Homo sapiens: one gene and its partner. The protein of the gene in region 1 interacts with the protein of each later gene in a biochemical or structural test. Each region holds a gene or a part of one and is shown in the gene's direction. Other genes may lie near its edges.

The links.
Region 2: of the proteins of MST1 (region 1) and TNNT2, one has a biochemical effect on the other in vitro, tested with the Homo sapiens proteins (one study listed by BioGRID).

Annotation. Positions count from the first base shown.
Region 1 is NC_000003.12:49,682,681-49,687,514, reverse strand, and holds the end of MST1 (hepatocyte growth factor-like protein isoform 1 precursor), read left to right. Parts: intron 1-36; coding exon 37-151; intron 152-229; coding exon 230-366; intron 367-447; coding exon 448-568; intron 569-712; coding exon 713-831; intron 832-1,033; coding exon 1,034-1,202; coding exon of another isoform or gene 1,203-1,207; intron 1,208-1,322; coding exon 1,323-1,453; intron 1,454-1,552; coding exon 1,553-1,655; intron 1,656-1,782; coding exon 1,783-1,919; intron 1,920-2,008; coding exon 2,009-2,044; intron 2,045-2,132; coding exon 2,133-2,253; coding exon of another isoform or gene 2,254-2,293; intron 2,294-2,425; coding exon 2,426-2,503; intron 2,504-2,559; exon of another isoform or gene 2,560-2,630; coding exon 2,631-2,777; intron 2,778-2,858; coding exon 2,859-2,965; intron 2,966-3,061; coding exon 3,062-3,201; intron 3,202-3,325; coding exon 3,326-3,487; 3' UTR 3,488-3,568; downstream 3,569-4,834. Other genes in the region: APEH (acylamino-acid-releasing enzyme), read right to left, coding at 4,173-4,278, 4,369-4,475, 4,570-4,672, 4,779-4,834.
Region 2 is NC_000001.11:201,363,756-201,368,687, reverse strand, and holds part of TNNT2 (troponin T, cardiac muscle), read left to right. Parts: intron 1-460; coding exon 461-526; intron 527-881; coding exon 882-917; intron 918-1,816; coding exon 1,817-1,850; intron 1,851-3,017; coding exon 3,018-3,078; intron 3,079-3,380; coding exon 3,381-3,497; intron 3,498-4,312; coding exon 4,313-4,390; intron 4,391-4,932. UniProt on the Homo sapiens protein: Troponin T is the tropomyosin-binding subunit of troponin, the thin filament regulatory complex which confers calcium-sensitivity to striated muscle actomyosin ATPase activity.

The DNA of each region.
Region 1 (4,834 bases):
CTCAGCCCAAGTTGATCTTCTGTCTCTTGCTCCCAGACTACGTACGGACCTGCATCATGAACAATGGGGTTGGGTACCGGGGCACCATGGCCACGACCGTGGGTGGCCTGCCCTGCCAGGCTTGGAGCCACAAGTTCCCAAATGATCACAAGTGAGACAAACACCTTCCCTCCGTCCCGGCCTGGGGCCTTCCCCCAGCACACACTATAGTGATGCTCTGGGCCCTCAGGTACACGCCCACTCTCCGGAATGGCCTGGAAGAGAACTTCTGCCGTAACCCTGATGGCGACCCCGGAGGTCCTTGGTGCTACACAACAGACCCTGCTGTGCGCTTCCAGAGCTGCGGCATCAAATCCTGCCGGGAGGGTAAGCGGCGCCGGGTCAAGCTGGGAGAGTGGAGGGACAAGCCCACGTCCATCCACGAACCCACTGGCTCTTTGTCTCCAGCCGCGTGTGTCTGGTGCAATGGCGAGGAATACCGCGGCGCGGTAGACCGCACGGAGTCAGGGCGCGAGTGCCAGCGCTGGGATCTTCAGCACCCGCACCAGCACCCCTTCGAGCCGGGCAAGTACGCGTAGGCGGTATCGGCGTCCTGGGGGCCGGGCTAGGGAAGGTCCAGGACTCCAGGGGCAGGGCTCCGTGTAGGGCAATTGGGCGGGGCCAGATAAGCCAGAGTCCCAGGGTCTTGTTCACGCCCCATTACCGCCCCCAGGTTCCTCGACCAAGGTCTGGACGACAACTATTGCCGGAATCCTGACGGCTCCGAGCGGCCATGGTGCTACACTACGGATCCGCAGATCGAGCGAGAGTTCTGTGACCTCCCCCGCTGCGGTAGGCGGCGGGGACCAGGCCTGGGAGGGTACCTGGGAACCTTGGGGAGGGGCGTGGCTTGGCCGGGGAGGTAAGAGGGGCTGGGCGTGACCTGAGAGCATACCCCGTGGAGTACCGTACACCTGGGAAAGGCGGGTTTGGTCCCAGCCCCAGAGGGATCTCAGCTCTCGCTCGGGGCCCGACCTATCTCGGTCCATCTAAGGGTCCGAGGCACAGCCCCGCCAAGAGGCCACAACTGTCAGCTGCTTCCGCGGGAAGGGTGAGGGCTACCGGGGCACAGCCAATACCACCACTGCGGGCGTACCTTGCCAGCGTTGGGACGCGCAAATCCCGCATCAGCACCGATTTACGCCAGAAAAATACGCGTGCAAGTGAGGTGGGGGGGGGGGGCGGGCGTTGGGACGTGCTGCTGCGGGTGAGACGGGAGGAAGGTAGTCACGGGCTCAAGGCTGGAGGCTGGCGGGCTAGGGCTGAGTGGAGCGCCTGCTTAGAGACCTTCGGGAGAACTTCTGCCGGAACCCCGACGGCTCAGAGGCGCCCTGGTGCTTCACACTGCGGCCCGGCATGCGCGCGGCCTTTTGCTACCAGATCCGGCGTTGTACAGACGACGTGCGGCCCCAGGGTGAGGCCCAAGCTTGGGGGCTACAGAGCCGGGCTGGAAGCCTGGAACCGGAGGGCCGGGGCGAGGTCTCGGCCTGATGGCTGCCCGCACCCGCCACAGACTGCTACCACGGCGCAGGGGAGCAGTACCGCGGCACGGTCAGCAAGACCCGCAAGGGTGTCCAGTGCCAGCGCTGGTCCGCTGAGACGCCGCACAAGCCGCAGTGAGTCCCTGGTGCTCCCGGCCCCGCCAGGGCCCTAACCCTGGGGCGGCATGCTTTGGTGTCTGGGACCAGAGCCTGGAAATGGTTGAGACTACCCTGCCACGATTTTGCTCCCGCTTCCGCCTAGGTTCACGTTTACCTCCGAACCGCATGCACAACTGGAGGAGAACTTCTGCCGGAACCCAGATGGGGATAGCCATGGGCCCTGGTGCTACACGATGGACCCAAGGACCCCATTCGACTACTGTGCCCTGCGACGCTGCGGTGAGCACTAGTGACGCTTCCCCCATGACCCTGCCTCAGCCCCCACCCAAAGGCTGGCTCCCTTAACCCCAGTGAACTTTGTCTTTCAGCTGATGACCAGCCGCCATCAATCCTGGACCCCCCAGGTTAGGAGTTGGGCCAGTTATGGGTCAGGCCCTTTAGCCCACGACATCCACACAGTCTGGGTTTCATCCAGCCCACCCCATCCTACAGACCAGGTGCAGTTTGAGAAGTGTGGCAAGAGGGTGGATCGGCTGGATCAGCGGCGTTCCAAGCTGCGCGTGGTTGGGGGCCATCCGGGCAACTCACCCTGGACAGTCAGCTTGCGGAATCGGTGAGGCACAACTGCCTGTCTCCCACAGAGAGGAGCTGAGGTTGTGTCCTCTGTGGTTATCCCACTGGGGGCTGGGAATCTATCCCTGCCCCCAGAGGTCCTAGCCAGAAGATGGCAGGTCTAGCATCTGTCCCAGGAGTCTGTTACCTGTCCTAATTCCCCACTCCTCTAGGCAGGGCCAGCATTTCTGCGGGGGGTCTCTAGTGAAGGAGCAGTGGATACTGACTGCCCGGCAGTGCTTCTCCTCCTGGTGAGCCTCCCTTGTGTTTGGGGACCCAGTCTCATCCCACCTTCCCCCTTCCCCAGGCAAGCTAACAAGTGAGCCTTGGGGCAATGGACTGAGAGTCACAAATGACCTAGCAGAGCTTCTCTCCCAGCCATATGCCTCTCACGGGCTATGAGGTATGGTTGGGCACCCTGTTCCAGAACCCACAGCATGGAGAGCCAAGCCTACAGCGGGTCCCAGTAGCCAAGATGGTGTGTGGGCCCTCAGGCTCCCAGCTTGTCCTGCTCAAGCTGGAGAGGTATGTGGACAACCTGGGAGGGTGTGAGGTGGGGCTGGGCCTTGTGGCCTCAGACCCTGAGTGCCCCCATTCTTGCTAAAGATCTGTGACCCTGAACCAGCGTGTGGCCCTGATCTGCCTGCCCCCTGAATGGTATGTGGTGCCTCCAGGGACCAAGTGTGAGATTGCAGGCTGGGGTGAGACCAAAGGTAAGAGCACAGTGCACAGGACTGCTGGTGGCCAGGAGGCCCAGCCCTGGATCTTCCTGCAGGACCCTCTCCCTCTCCCCATTCCCCTCACTGCAGGTACGGGTAATGACACAGTCCTAAATGTGGCCTTGCTGAATGTCATCTCCAACCAGGAGTGTAACATCAAGCACCGAGGACGTGTGCGGGAGAGTGAGATGTGCACTGAGGGACTGTTGGCCCCTGTGGGGGCCTGTGAGGTTGGTGGCAGGGCCCTGGGCCAGCCCTGGAAGGGTATGGGGGGCTAGAAATGAACTATTTTATCATGAAGCAGGCTAGTCATTGCTGTGGCCCGGGGCCCTCATCAGTTCTCCTACCTGCCAGGGTGACTACGGGGGCCCACTTGCCTGCTTTACCCACAACTGCTGGGTCCTGGAAGGAATTATAATCCCCAACCGAGTATGCGCAAGGTCCCGCTGGCCAGCTGTCTTCACGCGTGTCTCTGTGTTTGTGGACTGGATTCACAAGGTCATGAGACTGGGTTAGGCCCAGCCTTGATGCCATATGCCTTGGGGAGGACAAAACTTCTTGTCAGACATAAAGCCATGTTTCCTCTTTATGCCTGTACAGATGCTTCTTAGCCTTTGCTTCCAGGAAATGTGTCAGTGACTCCTTGCTAGGGCTCGGGTGGCTTGAGCCCAGCACACCCTGGGCTAGGTGATCTGTCCAGCCTAGGGGCTTCCCCAACCAAGGCAATGTCCCTGGGACTACTTTTGCCCATGGGTGCCGTGGAAAGACAGGGCCTCACACTAGTCCTCCAGACATACTCTTGGGAAGGGTGGTACAGAGTAGTTGCTAATGGAAGGGGCTGCAGCAGGGAAGCTAGGCTGGTACAGAGTCCTGGTTGCCAGGACAGGCAGAGGCTAAGCCTCTCACTGTTCCCTCCCTTCTCACACTGGAGGCAGATGAAGCCCTTGTGGCTGCCACACCCAGAACCTAGGGTCTCTGCACCCCAGAGTGGGAGGTGGGGTTGGGGATGGTTTGGTACAAAGTACCAGCAGGAACCAGGCTCTGTGTCCTAATTTATTATGACTACATAGCCCACATTCCTCTGCCCACGCATCCGTGGAGTCCAGAGCCCAGAAAGCCTCCTGCTGCCCTGCCAGACCGTTGAGCTCCTCAAGAGCGAAGTGTGGCACAGGCTGATCAGCTCATGCAGAATGGCAGGGCTTCAGCTGCCCAAGTGTGTGCGTAGCCAGAGCACAGCATTCATGAAGCTGTCTGACTCCACCTCCACCTCTGATAATGCGTGGGTGCTTTTGGGATAGAGCAGGAGCCTGTAGGGATTAGTCAGCAACATTTAAGGTTGGAGGGTCCTCCTGTGCTCACCTGCCCACCAGCTGCCAGGGCCTTCATGCTGCACTCACCGAACAGGCACATTCCGGGTCTTGAGGGCACGGTAATACTCCATGCCCTGCTTGAAGGGCACACGCCGGTCCTCCTGGCCCAACATCAGTAACAGTGGTGTCTTCACCTGGGTGTTTGGGGAAGAGTGGGGAGCTGTGTTGAGCTGGGCCCTGGATTCTGGATGGATGGGCAGCACACAGGGCAAGGAGGGGGCTGCATACCTGAGGGATGTATCTGATGGGCGATTTGTCCAGCATCTCAGCCCACACGCTGAGGTCTGGCAGGCAGTCACTGCTGAAAGGAAAGCCAGCCTCCACCACGCACCTGCAAGACACCGAGCTGTTGCAGCCCCAGGAATTCTGGGGCTACGGGGCTCCATGAGAATTTGAGGTAGAGGAGGGAAGGGCAGGGACCTGTGGTGTATGCCTACCAGTCAGGGATGTCAGTGGAGCCCAACATGGAGGCGATGTTGATCACGGGGTTCCG
Region 2 (4,932 bases), on another chromosome or scaffold:
AAAATCCTGCCCACTTTCTGGATAGTACGAAGATCCAGATATTGAGTGTGCCATCCAGCCACACAGTCGTACTCTTTTGGTTTCTTTGAGATGTGGATTGAGGGTGTCTAGAGTCACTAGGTTCAGGACAGGAGCTTCTGGACACCTCGGCTTAAGCAGAGCATGTTCTGTGGTGCCAGACACGGGGTGGAACTTCTGGGCTGGAAAGTTGGGGAATGAGGTGGAGTCCCATCATCAGGGAGGTTGCCGGGATGAGTGGGGCTAAGCTGGGTGGCGGGAGGTAGCCGACAGTCAAAACCAAGAATGGCAGCCCCCCAGCACGTTGGTTGCCCCCAAATTCATCTGGACCTAGACGTCTTGACCCCCATCCCCACTCCCCGCTGCCCATTCTCTGCTCTGGGTTCTGCCTGATAGCATGAGTGGGGCCTGCTTCTTCACTCTGTCTGCTTCACTTCTCCAGAGCAGGAGGAGGCAGCGGAAGAGGATGCTGAAGCAGAGGCTGAGACCGAGGAGACCAGGGCAGAAGGTAAGTCTCTGGTTGAGGGTGCAGGGGCCTCAGGGGGTGGCGAGAGCCCCTGGAGCCATTCCTGAGGCAGTAAGAAACCCCCCAGAACAGGCTTTCCCATGTGCACCTGACTCTCCTATTGACTAAGATTCAACCATTGATTGCCCAATCAACAAACGTTGACCCAGCGCTTCTCTTGTGTCAGGCAGTCTTGGGTCCAGGGGAATGTGTGTGTGAGAGACAGCTCTGTAACCCCAAAAACCAACAGAGTGCATCTTGGCTAGGGCTTATCTGTGGGGAAGGCTCTTGCTGGTGGCGGAGGGGGGGACTTGAGCTCAGAACAAGGACCTTGATTGATTTCTCGTGTTTCATTTAGAAGATGAAGAAGAAGAGGAAGCAAAGGAGGCTGAAGGTAAGGATATCAGGAGAGAGGTACAAGGGAGGCAAAGGAACCCCTCACAGCAGCTTTGGAGGAGAATGCCCACAGTGCTCTTTCCAGGGAAGTGGATGTGCACTGAGAGGGTTTGGGAGAGGAGAGGACAGAACTTGGTGGCACTTCCAAAGTTTTAGATGTTGAGCTTTCAACTTTGCCCCTTCTCCCAGAGAAGTTGCATTGGTGGCACCCAGTGGGAGAGGGGACCATTGTCCAGCCCCCTGGTCTGGACAGAGCAATGGGACCCAGAAGTCATATCCACACATGAAGCTCCTAGAGCTTAGGTGAAATCACTTGTAGGATGTGGTGTCCGTAGGATGAAATCCCAATGCATAGATGGTCATGGTGGGTCATTGCTGCAGTCATCGTCATGCTGCAGCCTTCACCAGGGTTCTAAGTGGTCCCAGTCACTTCTCCAAAGGGGAGGGGACAACCAGCTGGGGCTTGGAATCATGTCATCAGCTTCTGCCCTGTGGCCACCGGGAAGTCCAAGGGGTAACAAAGAAGGCAAAGACCTGGGAGGGGATTCTAGGGCCAGGACCCTTGGGGACCTTTCCAAAGGCCTTGTCACTGTGAAGCACAAGAGAAGCAAAATTGCTTTGCCCAGAACTGGTGAGTGAGAGAAGGCTTTGTGTGAAGTTCCACACTGCGTGAGTGTGTGCCCTGCAGAACTCTATGGGAGGGGGAGTGTGGCATCTGCAGCCCCCGCTGCCTTCATTCTCCTGGATGCTTCTGGAATCAGGGCTCCCCAGTGCCGGGAGGGACTCACTGTGCAGATGGGGAAATGGAAATCCACAGGGATCTAGCTCATCGAGGGCGGAGTTGGGACCACTTCTGGGGCCCCCTGACCCATGGCTGTGTGCTTCTATCTCCTCCAGATGGCCCAATGGAGGAGTCCAAACCAAAGCCCAGGTGAGTGGGGAGGCACCTGGGTAGAGCCGGGAGCAGAGGCTCAGGGAGAGAGGATGATGATGGAACGGGGTGCAGTATGGTGCAGTGGACACGGGCTGGGGGTTTGGTGGGCACAGAGCACCACAGTACAGTTGTACAAGTTGTGTACTGCACAAGCGTCTCTTCCTAAGGGAGTGAGTGAGGGCTGAATTCCACCCAACACTCCATCACCAATCGTGCACCCTAGCAGGGATGGGGCTATGTTCTTCTAGAGGAAGGGCCCTGAACGGACACTCTCCTCTCTCACAGTATGGCCAGAACACCCTCCTCCATGGCCGAGGTGGGACCTTGGGATTAAGGGAAGCAAATTGTGGGGAGCCAAACAATGAAACCGTGCCAGCATAGGCATGGCGGCTTCAGAGAGCTGAGAGAGGGCAGGACGGCTTGGTGCCACACACGTGAAGCCCACCTGAAGGTGGTGTGTGCTGGGGGGGGCTGGGGGATAGGGAGCATTTCCCTTTTTATGATGCCAACCCTGCCAGCAGAGGTTGACCCATGGCACCTCTGCCCACTCACAGGCTCTTCCCATTTCAGTGGGGCCTTCTGAAACCAGCCCAAGACATCCCAGATCCATTTATTTGCCCAGTGCCTTCCCCCTTCCTGGCCTCTTGTGCACTGCGGTATCTCATTTCAGCTCCACACACCTGAGGGCAGATGGGGACATGAAGAATCAGAGAACCCCCTGGGTCTCAGTATGTGTTGGGACCAGGACCAAACTGCAAGACTCCCAGGTTCATGGCCAGTTTCTGCGGGGTCCACCAGGGGATTTGAAGTCCAAGAAGCATGGCATCTTGTCACAGCTTCTTTGATTCCAAGTTGTGTGGCTTTGAGCAAGTCATTCTACCTCCCTGAGCCTCAGTTCTCCTAAGTGAGATTAACGGTACCCACTTCATGGGCATATCATGAGCATGAAGTGAAATAGCATATGTGAAAGAGCTTTGTGTATTCCCAGGTGCTGAGCAAGGCTGAGGACTGCCATTGTTGACGTCAGTGTTACTATCATTGCTGTGGTTGGTCGGGGCAGTGCTGGAAGATTCTCTAGGAAGGATCAGGGCCCTGCCTGTCCTGGACACCCTCAGTCCCTGGGTCCAGAATGGGGCTGATGCTGACTATTCCTCTCTCCAACAGGTCGTTCATGCCCAACTTGGTGCCTCCCAAGATCCCCGATGGAGAGAGAGTGGACTTTGATGTAAGCGGTGGCTGTGGGTTGAGTAGGCCTGGGCTGGGGATAGTCCCAAGGGCCCTCAGTGACAGAGATTTTGTGACCTTGGGCTGGGGTAGAGCATAGGTGGGATGGGGTGCAGCACCAGCCAGGCTGGGTGCCCATCCATGAGCGTGGTCCTGGGTTCAGGCCACAGTTACCCCTTCCCTGGCCAGGCGCCAGGCCCTGCCAGAGGTCTTTTGCACTGCGTTGGGGGGTGTCTAGCCCACCCATCTCTCCTCTGGACTCTTTGGAGTGGCAGCCTCTGAGCCGCAGCGGTCCACCCACAGGACATCCACCGGAAGCGCATGGAGAAGGACCTGAATGAGTTGCAGGCGCTGATCGAGGCTCACTTTGAGAACAGGAAGAAAGAGGAGGAGGAGCTCGTTTCTCTCAAAGACAGGATCGTAGGTGTCCAGTCTGCCCACCTAACATTCTCTGATGGCCCAGTCTGTCCTCCATCCCTTTTGTGAGGCCCCACCTCCTCCAGACAGCCTTCCTCGGCGCCTCAAACCCAGCTAGGTGTGAGGTCTCCTTCAGAGGCCCTCCAGCATTCTGCACAGCTCCTGCAGCCCTGACTGGTTTCTCGGGTCCCTGCCTTCCCTCCCCATCCTACTGGATGCTCCTTGACTGCCAGAGCTGAGTCTGATCTGTTTCAGGCCTCCCCCAGGGCCTAATTCAGGCCCGGGCTGTGGACTGATTGGTCACAGGCCTGCTGCGCCACCCCTGCCCTTGCCTCCTCTTCCCCCGCAGATGAAGGGGAGTGTGACCTGCAGAATCCCACATCCTTCTCCTGCAGAGCGTGGAGGCTGCTTTGATTGCTTTTGTTTCTCCCCATCAAACTTGCCTTCCCACAGACATGCTGCTCTGGCTGGAGCAATGACTTGGCCATCTATCCAAGCATATGGCACAGAGCAGCTGCCAGGGCAGGGTGGGATGGAGGTGGGGGCAGAGCCCAGAAGGAGCCTGCCTGATGTCTCCCAGTTGTGGAGGGCAGTCTCACCATGAGGAATGTTGGAGGTGGGTCACTGCAGGTACCCTGGTGTGCACGTCCGTGGAGCTGGTTGAAAGTGGAGGCCCTTGGAGGCCGGGCACCATTGCTTCAAGACTCTGGAAGGAACCCTCCCCCAGGAATTCCCTTGCCACCCCATGCAGGTTTCTGTACCTGCGATGTCACCTTCTCCCTATGCACACCTGGGTGGGCTTTGCCTCTTCTCCTTAGGAGAGACGTCGGGCAGAGCGGGCCGAGCAGCAGCGCATCCGGAATGAGCGGGAGAAGGAGCGGCAGAACCGCCTGGCTGTGAGTGACCCCTAGCCCAGGCCCATGGAGGCCCCCCATGCTCCCAGCTCCTGCTGGGCCCCCAGGCCCCTCTCTATTCATCAACATGAATGAAATCAGTCAAGAGACAATATTGGCCGGGTGCGGTGGCTCACGCCTGTAATCCCAGCACTTTGGGAGGCCAAGGCGGGTAGATCACTTGAGGTTGGGAGTTCGAGACCATCCTGACCAACGGAGAAACCCTGTCTCTACTAAAAATACAAAATTAGCCAGGCGTGGTGGCACATGCCGGTCATCCTAGCTACTCAGGAGGCTGAGGCAGGAGAATCGCTTGAACCCAGGAGGCAAGGTTGCAGTGAGCCGAGGTCATGCCATTGCACTCTAGCCTGGGCAACAAGAGTGAAACTCCAACTCAAAAAAAAAAAAAAAGGAAAAAAAAGAGACAATATCAATATCAACCTAGGAAGTGCTGGGCATTGTCTTGGCTCTGATAATACATCAGCAAACAAGACAGAAATGCCTGCGTCCTTATGAACGTGTTATTTTATAAGACTCTCCAGCCC